Homo sapiens: one gene and its partner. The main gene of each other region encodes a partner of the protein of the gene in region 2 in a complex. Each region holds a gene or a part of one and is shown on either strand. Other genes may lie near its edges. The genes, in order: DRC5 and FBXL13.

What was found.
Region 1: FBXL13 (region 2) and DRC5 share a complex: the UniProt entries of both Homo sapiens proteins name them as parts of the nexin-dynein regulatory complex.

The regions. Positions count from the first base shown.
Region 1 is NC_000006.12:44,284,109-44,287,927, forward strand, and holds part of DRC5 (dynein regulatory complex subunit 5), read right to left. Parts: intron 3,811-3,819; 5' UTR 3,718-3,810; coding exon 3,441-3,717; intron 3,172-3,440; exon of another isoform or gene 3,082-3,171; intron 2,425-3,081; coding exon 1,856-2,424; intron 1-1,855. UniProt on the Homo sapiens protein: Component of the nexin-dynein regulatory complex (N-DRC) a key regulator of ciliary/flagellar motility which maintains the alignment and integrity of the distal axoneme and regulates microtubule sliding in motile axonemes.
Region 2 is NC_000007.14:102,886,157-102,889,975, reverse strand, and holds part of FBXL13 (F-box and leucine-rich repeat protein 13), read left to right. Parts: intron 1-3,819. UniProt on the Homo sapiens protein: Substrate-recognition component of the SCF (SKP1-CUL1-F-box protein)-type E3 ubiquitin ligase complex.

The DNA of each region.
Region 1 (3,819 bases), on a different chromosome or scaffold from region 2:
GCTGATCACAGCCACCCATTCCTCACTTCCCACTCTCCCCAGAAACCACTGCTATCTGGCCTCTGCTCCTGCCACTCCACTGAAATAGCTCCCCCTCAGTGACCTCCATGTTCACTAAATCCAGTCCTCAGCTCTATTCCACCCCGTTGCTCACTCCCTCTACTTGAAACATACCCCTCCCTTGCTCTGTGACACAATGCCATGTTTCCCCATTTCCTCCTCCCTCTGGCTTCCTGGCAAGCTCTTCTTCTTCCACTGAGACCACATGCCAGGCCTCTTGTTGTCTTGCTTTTGGCTCTCCCCTGTGAGACTCCATCCAAACCCAGGGCTGCAACTGCCACCTTCATGAAGATGGCACACATTCCCACATTCAATTCAGACCTCTCATCTGAGCTTCGGACCCTCTACCCAACTAACGAAATGACCCCTTCTTTGAGATGCCTCAAACTGAAACTTACACTCTTCCCCCTCAAAACTGATCCTCTTCCCACATTCCCTGTCTCTGCACATGGTCCCTCCAGCCATCCAGCCTCACAAGCCAGAGGTCTTGCACCTCACCTCCTTCTCCTTCCTTCTCCTTCAGATCCTCCCTGTGCCAGTGTGGCCAGGTGCATGCCAGACACATGTCTGCCTAAATATGTGTTGACTCTCTCCACTCCTTTGAGTCTCCACAGACACTACCCTCGCTGAAATGACCCTCACCCTCACCTGGATTTGGCAGTGATCTCCTAGGTAATCTGCATGTCCACTGCTGCCCTGCCCAGGCCATCCTCCCTCACAGACGGAGTGACATTTTCACATGTGAAATCCAGTAATGGTACCTACTTTTTTGCCTAAAACCCTTGGATGGTGTCCCAGAGCTCCTAAGGATAAAGATAGCCTCCTGGACAAAGCCTCCTTCACCCAGCAAGGCTGACCACCTCACACTCTGCGCCAGCCACACAGTCTTCTCTTTCTCTTTGAGCTGGCCATGTTCACTCTGCCCATAGAGCCTGTATGCACTGCTCCCTCTGTCTGGAACGCTCCTCCCTCTGAGACTGTAACTCGTCCTCCTCCTTCTAATCTCTATGTAAGTGACATTTGTTCAGGGAAGCCTTCCCTTGCAAGGTCAAATGCTCCTTTACAATCTCTCATAAGAGTATCTCTTCTTTATAGCATTCATCCCAATTCAGGGGTACCAGAAAAAAGTACAGGATGCCCAGTTAAAAATAAATTTCAGATAAATAAGAACGCCCCATGGAATATTCGGGACATACTTATAAAAATTCTTTGCTGTTTATCTGAAATTCAAAATTTTTGGAGACAGGGTCTCATTTTGTAACCCAGGCTGGAGTGCAGTGGTGTGATTGCAGCTCACTGCAGGCTTGAACTCCGAGGCTCAAGGGATTCTCCTACCTCAGCCTCCTCAGTCTCTGGAAGACTACAAGCGTGCCTGGACCTGAAATTCACATTTAACTGGATGTCCTGTATTTCTATTTGCTACATCTGGCAACCCTATTCTAGTATCAATTTTATGTTTATATGATTGCTGATTAGTGCCTTTATCCCATCAGACTGTTAGCTACAGAGGGCACAAATGATAATCTTGCTCATCCTTGAATCTTCAGCACCTAGGACAGGGCCTGGAGCGCAGCTGTTTGTTCAATGAAACCAACTGGTGAACTGGGAGAGCAGCGCCTTGTTCATCTCTACACCCCCAGAACCGTGTATCTTGGTGCAGGGTGCATTAAAAAACACTTGGCCAATGAAAGAGAAGGAAATAGGAAGAAGGCAATAATAGAGGAGGAAGAGGAGGGGAGAGGGAATCTGAGAGATGCTGAGAAGGGGTGGGGGGAAGGCTGGGAGCAGACAGTACCTTGAGGGTGTGGCATGCCTTGATGGCGGCTGCCAAGGAGAGGCAGTCACGGTAGGTGAAGAGGAAGAGATTCCACTCGAAATTCATGCCGCAGTCCTTGACATCGTACACCAGGTCCAGCTCCTCCAGGTGGCTCAGGCCAGCTACCAGATCGCCCAGTTGGTAGTGGTCAACGGTGGGCTCCTCCATCTCTCCCTCGCTGCCTGAGTCGGACTGGTCGCCCGGCCGGAGCTGGGCCGGGAGCTGCACCGGCGGAAGGAACTGATCGACGTGGACCCTGCGCACGTAATTCCGGCAGAGCGGCAGCAGGTCGAGGATCACCGCAGGGTCTGTGGTGCCTGGGATAAAGTGCTTTAGCAGGTTCTCCAGGTGCCGCTCGAAGAACATGCGTTTCCAGCTGCCGCCATGGTGGGCCACGTGGCACACGGGCCAGCGATGCATGCAGCAGCGGAGCCAGTAGTTCTCACTGTCTATCAGGTTGGCGGTCACAGCCAGTGGTAGGTCAGGGGACAGGTGGTTCAGGACCTTCTGCTGGTGTTCCGGGAGCATCTGCTTCAGGATAGGGTTTTCTTTGGGAACAGAGGAAGGAGCGCAGGGGGTCACAGTGTTGGGGGACACCTCAACATGATGCCTCAGGCTGGGCCTGCCTGGGAGCACCAGGCAAAGGAGAGACCCTTCCCTGCTTAGGGGATAGACAGCCTCTGCTCTCAGGGGGGCTCAAGCAGAGGGTGGGACACAGCCTTTAGCTTTGGGATGTTCCCTGCCTGAAGGTGGACATCTCAGCATCTGTTCTCAGGGAGTTCCCAGACTGAGGAAGACTCTCAGGTCCAACTCTCAATTATCACCTGGTCTGATGGGGGATACAATCCCTGAGGTCAGAGGCTTCCAATCTTATTTGATTCATCCATTTCAAAACAAGAAATTTTTTGAGCACCTACTATGTGCCAGACACTGGAGGTAGCACTATGAGAGACTACTATGTCCCACGTGCTGGAGATAGAAGAGTAAGCAAACAGGGCTCTCCCTTTTGGAGTTTACATTCCAGTGAGGGGAGGCTGACAATAAACAAGTAAAATGAGTGAGACTGGGTGATGATAGTTGCTGTAGATGAAATAATGGCCCTGTCCTCAGACAGCGCCCCATCTGGTAGGAGAGGCTGGCAGTCCATCTTTGGAAAGGATCAATATTACAGAGCACAAAATATGGAACAAACCAAGAGCCCTTACATGGCATGGAAGACTCCATCAGAGTAGAGGGCGGTTCACTTGGGAAGGCTTTCTGGAGGAGGAAGTAGATATGGCTCAGGCTGGGTTTTGCTGGAGAGAGTAGAAAAGGCAAGGAGAGGGCAGAGGCATGGAGGGTGCAGTGTGGGTGGGAGTCTGGTGGGACCTGCCAGTGGGAACAGAAGGAGAAACTGTCTTGGCCCTGGGTGGAAGGGAAGTGTTGAGTGGGTATGAGGATGCCATACGGGAGAGCAGGGGCTGCCCCAGGACCCAGCTTCTGCAGTCTTGGCTCCGGACAGTCCCCACCCACCTAGCCCCCCTCTTGGCCTTCTCCTGCCCACCTAAAGCAGGGACAGACTCACTCTGGAAGTTCCTGATAATGTGCTGAATGCAGAGCTCTGTGAGGAGGGGCACGATGGCCAGTGACCACTCAGGATCCTCAGCAATGATCCGGCGCATCCGACGGATATTGGCCCTGGGATGTGGGTTCCTGGACTTTGCAGGGACTGGTGTGATTGAAGGCTTTGAGAGCTGTGGGCTTGTGCTTGAAGTGTGTCCTCCAGTGGAGGAATTGTCCTGGGTGGAGACTGAGGAGTGGCTGGGGTCCAACAATGCTGATGTCGTTACGGTATCCTGCATGCTGGAGGCTGGCAAGGTAGGGGTGCGTGGCCCCTGGATGGCCTTATGACAAGAAGCTTCTCAGACTGGCAGGTCCTTGAAACAGGTAGGGATCTGGAGCAA
Region 2 (3,819 bases):
TTGATAGCATCAAGTTTTGGGCTGTGTTGTAAGGATCACCCAGCTGTGGCTGCTTTTTGCTATCGTTTTCCCTCTTGTTCAGGAAATCTTGTCATGAACGTGTTACAAAGACAGCAAGAGAGAAAAGATTGTATGTTTTATGAAAACCATTATTAGAGATATTAATGTTAGGGTTATGAACTAAGGTCTGGAATGGGGGGAATTTAGAATTGTCATAAAAAACAACAAAGGATGAGCTCTTGTCCTTTGCAGGGACATGAATGAAGCTGGAAATCATCATTCTCAGCAAACTATCACAAGGACAAAAAACCAAACACTGCATGTTCTCACTCATAGGTGGGAATTGAACAATGAGAACACCTGGACACAAGGCAGGGAACATCACACACGGGGGCCTGTCAGAGGGTGGGGGACTGGGGGAGGGATAGCATTAGGAGAAATACCTAATGTAAATGACGAGTTGTTGGGTGCAGCAAACCAACATGGCACATGTATACCTATTTAACAAACCTGCACGTTGTGCACATGTACCCTAGAACTTAAAGTATAATAATAATAATAAAAATTAAAAACAAACAAAAAACAGTTCTCAAACCTGGGGTTGTGTGTCATAATAGGAAGAGGTGGCCTCTAGCCCTGGCTCTGCCATTGCTATGTGACTCAAGATAATCCATTCATTCATTCATTCAACATTTCTGGAGCACCCACTCTGTGTCAGACACTATGTTCAGCACTGGGGCCACGTTGTGAGGAATAGATAAAGAACCTGTTCTCCGATCACACAACTTCTCTGAATCCCATTTCTTTGTTTGCAGTAAGAGGGCTGCACCACAATGAGTTCTCAAGACCCCCTACTCCTGCTTCTTGATTCTTTCCCATGGGAGCAAAATGTGCCCAGAAGAACAATAACAGGAAAAGTGATAACAATATTACATGCCAGACATTATGCTAGCTAATCACTTTTATATACATTGCCTCATTTTATTTTCTCAAGAATTTCCTAAAATGGGTATTATTATGCTCATTTTCCAGATGAGGAAACTAAGAGTCGAGAGGTTGAGCTACTTTTTGTTATAAGCAAGAAAGAGGTAGAGCCAGACTCAAAACCAGCCCAGCTAACTCCAAACCCAGCATTCTTCTCTCCTCCTCTGTTCATGTTTTGAAAGGCTCATTCCTCTCCCCTGGACTTTGCTCTGGGCTACTTATAAAAAGTTTACTCAAGAATTCATAGCAGTACAAAAAAAAACAAAAACAAACAAAAAAACCACCTCATTCTTGCCTTACCAGTCTTCTACTAGCTTTCCCTCCTTCCTTACCTACTCAACTTTTCTTATTCATCCCAAGAGTGATCCTGCCACTTCAGCCAAGACCAGCACTCCCACTGCTTTGCCTCCACTTGTGCTTACCTTCCACCTGGAATCTTTTTCTTTTCTTTTATTTTGAGACAGAGTCTCGCTCTGTTGCCCAGGCTGAAGAAGTGCAGTGGAGCAATCTCAGCTCACTGCAAGTTCCGCCTCCCGGCGATTCTCCTGCCTCAGCCTCCTGAGTAGCTGGGACTATAGGCGTGTGCCACCATGCCTGGCTAATTTTTTTGTATTTTTAGTTGAGATGGGGTTTCACCGTATTAGCCAGGATGGTCTCAATCTCCTGACCTCGTGATCTGCCCACCTTGGCCTCCCAAAGTGCTGGGATTACAGGCGTGAGCCACTGCACCCAGCCTGGAATTCTTTTCAGTCTTGTCTGTTGCCAAACTCTGCACTCTTTCCCAGACTTTATCTTACTCCTAAATTTAATTCATTCATCCCCTCATAGTTGTCCAACACAGTAGGAAATTCAAAAAAAGAGTACCTGAACATCTCTTTGAAGGAAAGTAAGGCACACACGGATTGCAGGAAGAGTTATAAAGAGTCGTGGGCCATTTATTAGTTAGTGTTTCCCTGAAAGAAGAGGTCTATGGTAGGAGATGATTCAAAAACTGTCCAAGGGCTTCCTTACGCTATCTTTTCCCCAAAGATGCCTTTTTCTGTTTCTCTTTTTTTCTGACTATACATGGTCACTGTAGAAAATTTGAAAACTATCCACTCTTCAGAGATAATCACTATTAGCATTTGGTGTATTTCCTTCTGTGATGGTTAATTTTATGTCACTTTGGTTAGGCTATAGTGCCTAGTTGTTTGGTCAAACACCAGTGTAAATGTTGTTGCAAAGGTTTGTTTTGTTTTTATTTTTGAGATGTGATAAACATTTAAATCAGTAGACTTTGAGTAAAGTGGACTCCCCTCTATAATGTGGGTGAACTTCATTCAGTTGAAGATGTTAAGAATAAAGACAGGTCTCCAAGACTGAGGTTTCCTGAAGAGGAAACAATTCTGCTGCAAGACTTGCAATGTAGAAATTCTGAGTTTCTAGACTACCAGCCTGGTATACCAATTTCAGATTTGCCAGCCCCCACAATCACATGACCAATTCCTTAAAATACATTTCTCACTCTGTCTCTTTCTCTCTCCATACACACACATACACACACTTGGATGTTTGTGTGTGTGTGTGTGTGTGTGTGTATGTATGTATATATACTTGGATGTAAGTATATCCTATTGGTTCTGTTTCTCTGGAGAACCCTGACTGATATACTTTGTTTTTGTTCTTCATTTCCTCCCAGTTAGCACTTTTCAAACTGTCATGTCTGTGTGTAAATCACCTGTCTTGTTCAAGTGCAGCCTCTAAGTCAGTAGTGGTGGGCTAAGATTCTGTACTTTGAACAAGCTCCCAGGTGATGCCTATGCTGCTGGTCTATGGACCACATTTTGTATAGCAAGGCCTTATATAATTAACTTTTTCTTCATGAAATAATATCATGAGCTCAGTTATTCTCCTAAAACATTAACTTGTAACTGTATTGCACCCCATCATACGAATTGCCATAAATTTGTTCAGGCTTTAGAAACATATTTCCCAAAGTCTTTTTAGAAAAATTATCCAAGTATAATCCCACCCAAAGGCCTGGCTTCTGTAGCACAATAGAAAAATACTAGAAATGTAGAAAAATTGTCCAAATATAATCCAACCCAAAGGCCTGGCTTCTGTAGCAAATCAGGCCTGCATGCTCAGCCCCTGGTTTCAAGGGCTTCCCTTAGCATTTTTTCTCTTTTCTTTTTATTTCAATAGCTATAAAAATTCCTTTGGCTTTTGTCTGGGTGCTCATATTATTAGTGTCTGCTGAGAAGGGGAACCTACTGAATAGACATGGTTCTCAGAAGCCATTCATACATTCCTCCATTTATTCATGTAATAATATTACTCAATTATCTCATCAGTTGTTATAGGCACCATGCTGGGAGCTGTATACAGGGGATTCATTTAATAACTAATCAATCATAAAATGAATATAATTGTAGTTATGATAATTACATGGTGATGTAAGTATATAACAAGAAACTGGTCTAATCTAAGGGTCAGGAACACTTCCTAAGGAAGTGACATTTGAGTTGAGCTCTGGTTGTCCTGGGGCTATGACACTCAGTTCCCTAACTTTTGGCTAGTCTTTTCTGAATAGGTGGAGGCTCTGATGACAGAACCTTGGAAGTCACCTTTAGTGAGAGGTGGCGCAAATGAAGTCTCCAAAGGTCTCCCTAGAGGTCCATTGTAGCTGCTGCTCCTCATTGTCCCTGTCATACTCTTCTGGAGATGACCCTTCAGGGGAGTTCCCCTTCTGTCTGCTTCTGGGCAGCATCTCAATTTCCCTTTACTGAATCTGAACACAATCTGATTTCCTATCTGTGTCCATTTGTTACAGGAAATGCAGTCTAAATAACAAAT